2 separate regions of the Homo sapiens genome follow, and region 2 is linked to region 1. Evidence: fine-mapped expression QTL. A gene starts in region 1. The other region holds a variant in brackets. All regions are shown on one strand. Distances are from middle to middle.

Region 1 (5,376 bases):
GAACCAGACCCGAAACCAGGCCTGGGCCTGCCTGACCTAAGCCTGGTACTTAAAGATCGACCCCTGACATAACTGGTTATGTTATCTATAGATTCCAGACATTGTATGGAAAGACAGTGTAAAAATCCCTATCCTGTTCTGTTTCGTTCTGATTACCAGTGCATGCAGCCCCCAGTCATGTACCCATCATGACCCTCTCACGTGGACCCCCTTAGAGTTGTGAGCCCTTAAAAGGGACAGGAATTGCTCACTGGGTGTCTGAGGAGTTTTGTCTGTGGCTCCTCCTGCTACAATGGAATAGGCAATACCTTTTTTAAACAACTCTAAAAGGCTGTAAACAGTTAAAGGAGACAGAATTGGGGTGGCTGCTGATAAGAAGGGTGTTTACAGTGAGCAAAATCAATGCAGGGACATGTATTTAAAGGTAAGTGACCCCCACCCCCACAAGGGGCTATGATCTAAAAGCAACTATTGTTGAAAGGTGAAGTACAAAGTAAAGGAGTCCACAGGGGAAATAACTGAATTAACCAAAGCCCCAAGCCAGGAGTCCCACCTTAGTTAAAATCACCCTGCTTATCTCCACCTCAATTTGCTGGGCAACCCAACTTGAGAAGGATGTTTACATTACTTAGGCAGCATGGCCCATTTTTACTTTTCACCCAGGTGTTGTGGCGCAAGGCCAGATGTTTGGCATCACCAAGCAAAACATCTATGTGACCAAGCTGTTTACATTTCATTAGGATTTTTCATCAGGAAGGTGCACTCCCTGCTGATGCACATCTTAATTACAATTAGGAGCTCTATTTACCCCCAGGAGCTTTCAGATTAGCACGACCACATTATAGGATCCGTTTCAGAAATCATCCTCAGAAAATGCTACTCTAGCTTCCAAAAACCATCTCTAAGAAATCAAAATTTCACACAACTTCCTTCCAGAGTGTGTTTTCTACCAAGAAAGTCAGCTAACTTTTAGTAAAAACTAATTCTGCATTCGTAGTCTATGTAGTGAATACATCTTTTTCCTCTCAACTGCTAAGTAGCGCAGAACTTTTTCTTTTCCTAAACACAGTGCTAACTTAAAAATGAAAGATGCATGATAAAAGAGCAGAGATCTATTTATCCGCTCAGGTTTAGGGCTGGGAGTGGGGGAGGGCAGAATCCAAAGGCTCCTCACCCCCTCAAGGGATGCATGTTAAAAGTGAGGCCCGAGACCCCGGAGACTTTAATCAACTTTCCCCCTCCAACCTCCAAAGAATGAATCGGTTGTCTCCACAGGCTCAGCCGGGCTCTTCCCTCTCATTGTGTACCGGCTCAGACGCAGCAAGGACCCCAGCTTCCCGCAGCGAACTAAGACGCTCCGGCTTGCGGTGAAGTCTTTCTCTAACTGTTGCGATTGTCTTTAGAGATTACCAAAATCAAATATGCATTAGATGGCTTTTCCCCCTCTTGTTTGTAACACGCACACACACACGCGCGCGCGCGCGCGTGCACACCCAAAGCACTTTGGAGCCGCAGGCCGCCTCTGACAGCACATTTTGCACAAAGTGGCAGCGGCTGCAGCGGCGCACAAGTTTTGGCCTCTATGATGACTCTCGGGAGGGCCGGAGGGCCGGGGGCGGTGGCGATGCGAGGCCGCCGGAGCCCCAGGAGGACAGGGCTTTTGTTTGCGTCGATCCGCGAGCCGCCTGGGCTCTGGCGAGCACCACTGAAAATCCAAACTCCCTCCTGGACCGCGCCTTCCGGGCCGGCTCGCAACTTGGGGGCAGGATAGACTTGCCTGAACACCGGCTGGGGCGCGCTAGAGGTCCAGGGAGACAAGGGGGGACGCCCTGCACAGAAGTGCCCCGATCACCCCCAGGACCCTCAAACCCCTCCACGCTTCCTGTCAGCGCTGACAATCGCTGCTGCGCACCGAGGAACGAGTCCCTGGGCGCGCCCCGGCCCGCCGCGGGGCTCCGGGGCAAACCCTGGCCTGGCGGGGCTCCGGGGCAAACCCTGGCCTGGCGGCGCCGGCGAGCCCCGTGGCGGGTGGCCGGACGCGCCCCGGAGCCAGCGCGGCGCTTCCTGCGTGTCCCGCGCCCGGCTGGACGGCGGAAGGGTGGCCACGGGTCAGGGGGTCTGGGCGGGCGGGGGCCGGCGGGCGCCTCTTACCTTGGGCAGCAGCCCCGCGTGCGGCCAGCAGCAGCGCGGCCAGCAGCGCCAGGAGCGGCGGGCGCGTCCCGCGGCGGCGCGGCCGGTGCATTCCTCCTCTCGCTGAGGCGGCGGCGGCGGCGGCTCCCAGGCCGCGCGCAGAACATCCACGGGCTCTTCCCGGGCTCCCGGCCGCCTCGTCCCGGCCGCTGGCGCTCGCAGGACGCCGGGGACGTCTGCAAAGCTCTTTGTCCCTCTAACCTGCTCCCTCGCCTCCGCCTGGCCGCCTCTGGATGCCGCGAGCGCGATCCCTTCCCAGCCCTCTGGCTGCAGCCTCGCCTGGGCCGGCGGGTCAGTCCCAGGCTGTCCGGGTCGCACCAGTGGGCGTGAGTCGCCCTGGGTCGGACTCCGAGAACAGCGCACCCTGCGCCCAGGGGCTGCCGTCCCGGGGCTCCCTCGGCGGCGGCGGTGGCGGCTGCTCCAGCTCTCCACGCTCCCTCTCTCGCTCAACTTGTCACTTTCCACCAACTCTCCAGCCCAGCGCCCCAGCCCCGACCAATGGGAGACGCGGCCCAGGCTGGCGACCCAGCGCCCTCTGCTGCAGCCTCTCAACGCCCGCACCCTCCCCGACTTCGCAGAAAGCGGTCGCGGCTCCCGCGTCTCGGGCACGCTCCCTCCCCTCCCCTCCCCCACACTCCTCAAACTCGCCACCGAACCGAGCGCCGGGGACCTTCGAGGCTACTTGACAGAAGGGGAAACCGAGGCTCAGAGAGACTTATCCGGGATCTCAAGCCAGTTCGTGGCTGGACGACAGTAGACCCAGGTTCTAGCAGCCTCAGCTGTGTCACTGTTAGCTGTGTGACTCTGGGTAATGGCACATTTATTGCTATCATACAATTTCCCTTTTGCTTTCTTCTTGGACCCAAGAGTTGAGAGAGTTCTTACACAAGTAATTTATACTTCGCCTTTTTGTCTTTAATTTGTAGTCTCACTGAATTCAATGTCATCTGTACTGCCTCCTGGCAAGATTTATTGAGGATTATCTGTGGTTATTTTTGCCAATGTCCCATGGTTTTTTGAAAGGTGTTTTTGTCTTCCGAATGTGAAGATAGAATACTGTATCGATTTATCTTCTTTGTATTCATTATTTTTTCAGGCCTTCTGAATCTTTGCATGTTTGTTTGTTTGTTTGTTTTTTGTCTAGCTGCTCTGCCATGAGCCAAGGGATCATTAAAGACCTCTACAATGAGTGTGTTTTTGTCCATTTCTCCTGGTTTAACTTTATGGATTTTGTAATTCATAAATACCCATAATGATTTGACTTTCCCTGTAGAGACTGCCTTTGATCATAAAAAGTGGTGAGCGCCTGCTGTTTTCAGGGCTGTGCTCTAGGCTCTGAAGATGCAAGGGTAATAGGACACCTGTCAGTCTTGCTCTGGAGGAACAGGAAGAAGCCCATAGTCTCTCAATAATCACGTGGCCACTTACTAAATACCTCCTGTTTGCCTTGTGTTTTATATGCATTTGCTCACAAATCCTCCATTGACACTAAAAAGAGTCATTAAAAGTATATACTTCTTAGCTGTTTTACATATATTATCCCCATATTACAGTTTTAGAAATTGAAACTCAAAGGGAAAGTAAATGACTTGCCCACAGTCTCACAGACATGGGGTAGCCAAGCCAGCACTCAGGCTGTTTCCACTGAGAGAGTTAAAGCCTGTAACCAGAGCCTGGCACATGATAAGCACTCACTCGGGAGTTGTTGCTGTTGCAGTAGCCTCTAAGAACCCAGCTTTAGGGTTTTAAAATGAACAGTCACTTCATGGAGGGCGAGGACTCTGTCTCAATCATCTAGGTATCTTGCTGGCCTCTAACAGTACCTGGAATGCAATAGGAGCTCAATTAATGAACAAAGGTTAGGTCACCATTTGGAAAATATTAATTTCTCATCATATTTGTTTTATAGGGGTGCATGGAGGAGGGACAAAATTTCATCCATACTCCTTGGCACCAGGAAAAGCAGATCCCTGAGAGCTGAGACATTAGAAGGGGGAAAAAATGCAGCCCAAAGTATGTCCCAGCAGGTCATGGACTCCAGACTCCCAGCCCTTTGCCTTCAGGCAGGTGAATGACTAACCCATGCGGGACAAACAGTCACTTATTCTTCTCCAGGACTTCATGGCAGGAGCTGTGTCGGTAGTTTTCCCCCTTTCTATCGCTCTGACCTGAGGTCAAAAAATGATAGACAGAGAGGCCTTGGGTCAACCAGTTCATTACCTACATTGATCTGTCCCCCAAGTTTCTCTGCCTGAGATCTATTCAATCCTGTCCCAATTATCTCGCTTCTTGCCTGAGGAACTTACTGCACAAGGTTCTCTTGTTGGGAAACAGTCTTTGATGGTCAGTCTTAGTATATCACAGCCCAGAAATCAGAGGATACTCAGTTACACTGCACAGTGCTGGGCAGTCCTCTGTTGTCTACAGTCAATACACACAGTTGTCAGACAAGGAGCCTTTCTCATCCACCCACCCTGCCCCCAGCCCCCACCCTATAACTCCTAGGCCCAGGTATCTTAGGTAACAGACAGCTGCTAGTGCTGAGTATACAGAACTTAATGGCACTTTTATCAGTACTTAAACTTCCAGGAACTTAATCACAGAATCATAGACATAAGGAATGTGAGACCTGGAAAGGGCTTTGGAAATTAACTAGTACACCCCCCTCAACATTTTATACAGGAGACATGTGGGACTTAGGAGAGTGAAACCGCCTTGCCCAAAGCTGGCCAGAGCCAAAACTAGGACCTAGACCTACCAGTCCAGACCTGGGTAAGGACCATCATCAAATCATCCCAGATTCCTTCAGTTTAGCTATAGCACACAAGTTTCCAAAGAAAAGGTTAGCAATGGCCTGGCACGGTTGCTCATGCCTGTAATCCCAACACTTTGGGAGGCCAAGGTGGGTGAATTGCTTGAGATCAGGAGTTCGAGACCGTCCTGGCCAACATGGTGAAACTCCATCTCTACAAAAAAATACAAAATATTAGCCAGACGTGGTGACACACCTGTAATCCCTGCTACTCGGGAGGCTGAGGCATGAGAATTACTTGAGCCTGAGAGGCAGAGGTTGCAGTGAGTGGATATAGCGTCACTGCACTCTAGCCTGGGCAACAGAGCAAGACTCCATCTCAAAAAAAAAAAAAAAATGCTGGGGTGGGGGGGTGTTAGAAAAGGCTTTTCCTG
Region 2 (5,376 bases), 140 kb before region 1:
GATAGTTGAACCACCTTATTTTCTGCTGATTCCTATTACTATCAGATCATAAGAAGGCATATTCTGAGACGAAGCTTTAAGTTATAGATCACTGTGCATCGCTAATAATTAGTCAATACTCAATAAGTGCTGACAGCTGTGCTAAATGCTTTAGGTGCATTAATCATGACAGCATGATGACGGCGGCACTATTATGATCCCCAATTGAACAAAGAAACAGGCTCTGGAAGAGTAATTTACTCAAGGTCAGAAAGACAGGAAGTAGCAAGGCCAATGGAAACCAATATCTCGTCTTCCAAAAGAACCCAGATGCTTACCCATTATGCTCTGCTGTCTCTGTGTAAGTTTCCTCTATCTTGCTGAAACAATAAAAAGATTATCTAATAAATTAATATAGTTATCTAGTGCAAAAAAAAAAAAAAAAAGCCAATTCAATGAACACTGCTCATAGGAAAACTCTACCTTTAGGGGAATTCAGCCCAGGCTATAAAACACATTCTCTGGGCTGATTTTTGGCATAAAATGTCAAGGACAAAATAAATTTTTTGCTGATTAAAAGAAAAACCTCTCGGTAGCGGCCATTAAATTTTACAGCTGAAGAAAGAGGGCATTCATCGGCATTGGCTCTTTTTGGTCCTTAATCATAATGCCTAAGCTCCTATTAGTTTTAGAAAAACAAAAAGGAATTTTTTTCTCAATGTGTCAATATAATGCACTCCTTCCCAAAACAATGTTAAATAAAAATGAGGCATTTTTTTAAAATGCTTGAAGAGAACCAGTCCTACCCTTTGACCCTGTGCATTGAACCATCATTTCAAAGATGTTTCAAAGCATTTTAGTCCTGTTATTTACCCTCTAGATATTCCTGTCTTTTGGAAGATTTGTCAGTTTTTTAGAAAATCTCAAGATATGCATTAACATTCATTAATACTGAACTTTCAAGGCTAACTGGTTTTATTTGCTTAGCAAACTTATCTTTTTAAAAAGATGAATGGTTAAAGGTATTTCCTCATGCTGGTCATTGTCTCGCGGAGACAGCACTGCCCACCGATTTTGGGACCCAGATGAGGTCTCAGGACACTCTTCAGAGCCTAGGGCTAGCTATGGAACTGTTCCACGCACTCAGCCTCATGCCTCACTACTTGTGTGGGCAGCATTTGGCCCTCTCTCTATTTACACAAACTCCCTAACGGTCTCTGGCACCACTGACGTCTCAGAGGGAGGCACAGTATATAGAGTGTTTCACAAGAAAATTTTTAAACAAAAGGAATTAAAGAAAAGCCCTGTTTAATAGTAAGTTTTTACCAAGCTCCTAAATTCTCGAGAGCATGTGAAATATTAACTTTCCCCAAATGGGAGCACAGAGCTTGCCTTGTTTCAATTCATAGTGTTGGGTCACAAACGCTCTAGAGAGTACCACGCCCCGTTCTTAAGAACCTACTGAGATTCTTCATAAAGAGTGGTTTAAAAAGCAAAGGGTCTGGGCTCAGACAGACCTGCGTTCAAATTCTGGTTTTGACACTTTCCAAGTCTCAGGTACTTCATCTATAAGGTGGAGATCATAGTGGTAACTACTTCATTGCTTTGTTGTGAGATTCCTGTCGTATGATGTGCTGCTCATACCAAGCATTCAGTGCGTCGTGCTGGGTGGAATATAGTCAGCCTTCCACTATTCTGACTCAGGGAGGGACGCTTTGGCAGAAAGTACAACATGGTGAATCTCTAACATAAATTCCTAAAACTTCTCCTGTTCCAGGCACCCAAACGCAATCTGGGTCTAGCTTGGTTTACGGCAGGTGCCGGGGCACCCGAGTCAGGGCTAACAACAAGCATGGCCTCAAGGGGGCACTAGACAAGAGTCTGCGAGATGGCAGGTAGTGGTGACTCCTCACTTTGGAACAACAGTTGTCTCCCCAGAGCTGGCTTTCTCATCCTCTCTGCCCATCACTAGGATGGGAGAGCAGCATTAAGAAATTAGCCACCACCCTACTGCCTTCAGAAGCTCCTAGATAATCCCAAGACAGCCATTTTGCTCACCCACATCACTGAGCCTGCAGAGGCCCTGTCATTATGCCACGTGCTTTCCACAAAACAACATTTGCCTCCACCAGGGGCAGGTGGCAACTCCTTAACTGTCCAATACTTTCCCCTCTACCAACCACAGTCATTTCCTGTGGCCAGGGCTCTCCCCACGT[G/T]GTCTGCAGCTCCATCTGCCACATCTCCATTTTCCTGGACAGTCACTCTTGATTTCTCATCATATACTCCTTTTGGATAAAGTAAAATGCTGATTGAGAAGCAAAAATGATTTAATTTTTTATAATTTTGCATCGGTTTCCATGAAACAATAGATCATACAAATCTGATTTGAGTCTAGCAATAGGGGATTGGTTGAATAAAATGATGGCAAATTAAATTTAGTGGATGCTTAATCCTGTTTACCATACTATTAAGGGAAAATCATATTATTTTATAGAATAGAAAAAAAATTTTAAAGTATATGCCAAAAAATGGAAAGTGGCTTTTCTTTGGTTGTAGAACTGTGATTGCTTTTTTTCTTCCTGTTTGCTTATTTGCATCTTCTGATGTATCTGTGATACATTTAATAATTAATTTCTTAAACAAATACCCTTTGAGTACCTGCCAGGTGTCAGGCTTAGACTGAGTGCCAGAATTACCCTCATGGAATTCACAGTCCAGTGGAAGAGGAGACATTCATCAGGTAATCACACAAATGTATAATTATAAACTGGGACAGGAGCCACAGGGAAAGTATGGTGCCCAGTGACCAATGTAAGAGGTCACCTGATGTCTTCTGCTGTGAGGTTGGGTTCAGGGACAGTGTCCGTAAAGAAATAATATGTAATGTTGACTTAAGGAAAGAAGAATTGAAAGCTGAAGGGGAAGGGAGCAGAAGGGCTCACACGCAGAGGACAGCAAAGGCCCTGAGGCTGGACCCTGCACAGTAACAGTCTAGGAACTGAAAGTAGGCCTGAGCAACTGCAGAGAGAATGGTGAGACTTGAGCAAAAGGTAGGCCAGGGCTTTATAGGAGAAATTGAGGGTTTTGCTCTTTACCCTTAATGCAGTGAGTAACTTCAATGCAGGAGAGTAAAATGATCCACTTTAGCCATGAGATCACTGGCACCCTGGGCCACTGTCTCACTTCCCCCTACTCTGTCAATAGCCAAGGAGTCTCAGATGCAGGCCAGGTGGAAGCAGAGGTCTCACATCAGGAGGTGGGACCTTTGAGCTGATCAGAGCACTATGTTGTCTCTAAGGACTGTTCAGGAACAAAGTGTACAGTCTATGCCTGGGCAAAGGCAAATTACACTGGCACAATGTTCAAAACTCTATTTTATCTCAAAACCTGTAACCAGTGCTTCAGAGAACAAATGGCAGGTGTATTTACATTAAACATGAAACTCATTCAATCTTGTATTTGTGAAGCATGGGGCTCTTTTATTCCTGGTTTCACAGGGGTTTTGTAGTCTGTTATCTCCTATTACCATGTTATTAGGCTTTTCCTCAATCCCTACCACTCCCTTAACCCCTACTCCTTTCAAACTTTCTCCACAAGTATGTGCCACTTGGTTTTCCACCTTGATGAGCCCTTCTTGAGAAGGCGCCTGGCCCGATGAATGCTCTTTGTATCCTCTTGCCTTCAACAATGGTAGCCAGATCAGATGGATCATTTTGCAGTTATTGTTCATGCGAAGAGGAAACTTACAAAAATCTGCAAGGGCTGCCTATTCCTTAAATGACCTCAGAGCCAGAGGATATTTCAAGGGAAGAAAAATAGGGTAGAAATGTTTGTTTTCAGCTATAAGCTTTGGGAGTAGCATAAATAGCATGTTCTGGAGGTCAAGTATGTATAGGGATAAAACAACTGAACCATTCTAGAGTGTCTAGAGAGGTGCCAGGAACAGATTCATGTTTCCCAGAGGGACACTGCAGTGGCCCAGGGGAAAGTTTACATGTATACTTGTAGATGGGGGATCCCACACAGGAGATACTGGGTCTCCGGAGTGGGAGAATTATTCCCTGGGTAGGACTGATGCATCCATTACAAGATATTTAGTATATTTGGTTCAGGGAGCACCAAGTGCCAATTGTAGCACACCCCCCCGGCTTCACATGCATCCACCCCACCCCACCCCCTGCCAATCTTTCTGGCAAAATCAAAAATGCTTCCAAACCCAGGGAAGCAGTACTACTCTGTGTGAGAAGTTCTGTATAAGCATAGCTATCCCTAAATGCAGGCTAGCAACCATCTCCCATCATAAAAGACCAAGGATAGGGGGCAGAGGGTGGGAGATGTTGTGGGCTCTAAGTCCTTGGTAATAGTCATATGATTAAGATAGCCTTAGTCTCATACCCTTCTCTCCATTGCACTCTTCTTATACTCCACTAAGCATTTATTCATGTAGTTTCTGCCATTCCCTATTCTCTAAGTCTGCTATAAAAACCCTGCCCACTCCTCAAGGTGCAGGGAAGGAAAGCTCTCTCCACAAAGCCTCTTTATTGCTCTCCAAACACTTTTTATGTGCACCCTTCTTAGAGCCTGTATCCCACCTTAGACTATACACCAGGGGGCAGTGACTGCCTTATCTCCATCCCAGATTAGAAGCTTTAACAGCAAAGACCAGGTCTCCCTCACGTCTGCATTGCCCACAGGCCCAGAAAAATGGTGACATGGGTTGAGATGGTGGAGTCAGAACTGGGTTTAATGTAACTTTGCCACTTACTATTTAATGTGACCATGGGCAGCCCACTTCTTAACCTCTTAGAGACTCAGTTTTTGTATGTTTAAAAGAAAGATGACTATAATACCTACCTTCAAATGGTTGTTGTGAGGATTTGATGAGAAAATACCAAGCACGATGTATTCAATAAAGGGTAGCTATGAACACAGTGGTACAGTGCTTTGCAATTAACCACTGACTTTCACACATATTGTCTTGTATGATCCTGTGCCAGTGAACTCAGGAGGCTCTCCCAGACCCCATCTGCTCTCCCAAGCTGTGAGCATCAATTCTAACAGTGTCCATCAGCCAAGGTGCATGGAAGCAACAGAGAAGAGAGACTGATTCTGCCTTGGGGAGAGATGAAGCAGAAATGGGGGTGGAGGGGTACAGATTTAAACCAATTTTTTAAAATGGCTGATTACACTGATCACTTCTGAACTGGTTCTTGAAGGAGGGTTTAGAGTTTGCCAAGCAGAGAAGAGGGTTCCAACGGTCATGTGTACACAAAAGATTTGGTGTTTGGCCAGGTTAATAGAACAATCTGGAAAGATAAATTGGGATCAGACTTTAGACTGCCCAAGAGTCATCCGAAGGGATTTGAACTGTCTTCTTCCTACCTCGACTTACAGGTT

Direction of the effects. Alleles are on the strand shown, and positions count from the first base shown. SD is a standard deviation of normalised expression in the study named.
For the expression in cerebellar hemisphere of the gene that starts at base 2,643 in region 1, T is the low allele of the variant in region 2 and G is the other (large effect, 0.90 SD a copy in GTEx).

What was found. PIP is the estimated chance that this variant, and not a neighbour inherited with it, causes the effect.
Region 2: its variant is fine-mapped to the expression of ROR1 in cerebellar hemisphere (GTEx, PIP above 0.99). The same link has a PIP of 0.9 or more in cerebellum.

The regions. Positions count from the first base shown.
Region 1 is chr1:63,771,284-63,776,659 of GRCh38, reverse strand. ROR1 (receptor tyrosine kinase like orphan receptor 1) reads right to left here and starts at 2,643. Exons shown (of 9, transcript NM_005012.4): 1 at 2,152-2,643. The coding sequence starts at 2,242. RefSeq lists an enhancer at 1,019-1,582 and silencers at 1,448-1,742, 2,527-2,576.
Region 2 is chr1:63,914,538-63,919,913 of GRCh38, reverse strand. The region is part of intron 1 of ROR1 (receptor tyrosine kinase like orphan receptor 1); the gene reads right to left. Among named protein-coding and RNA genes, the nearest start is that of ROR1, 140 kb to the right of the region's middle. RefSeq lists a silencer at 1,783-1,852. The variant G/T (reference allele first, on the strand shown) is at 2,196.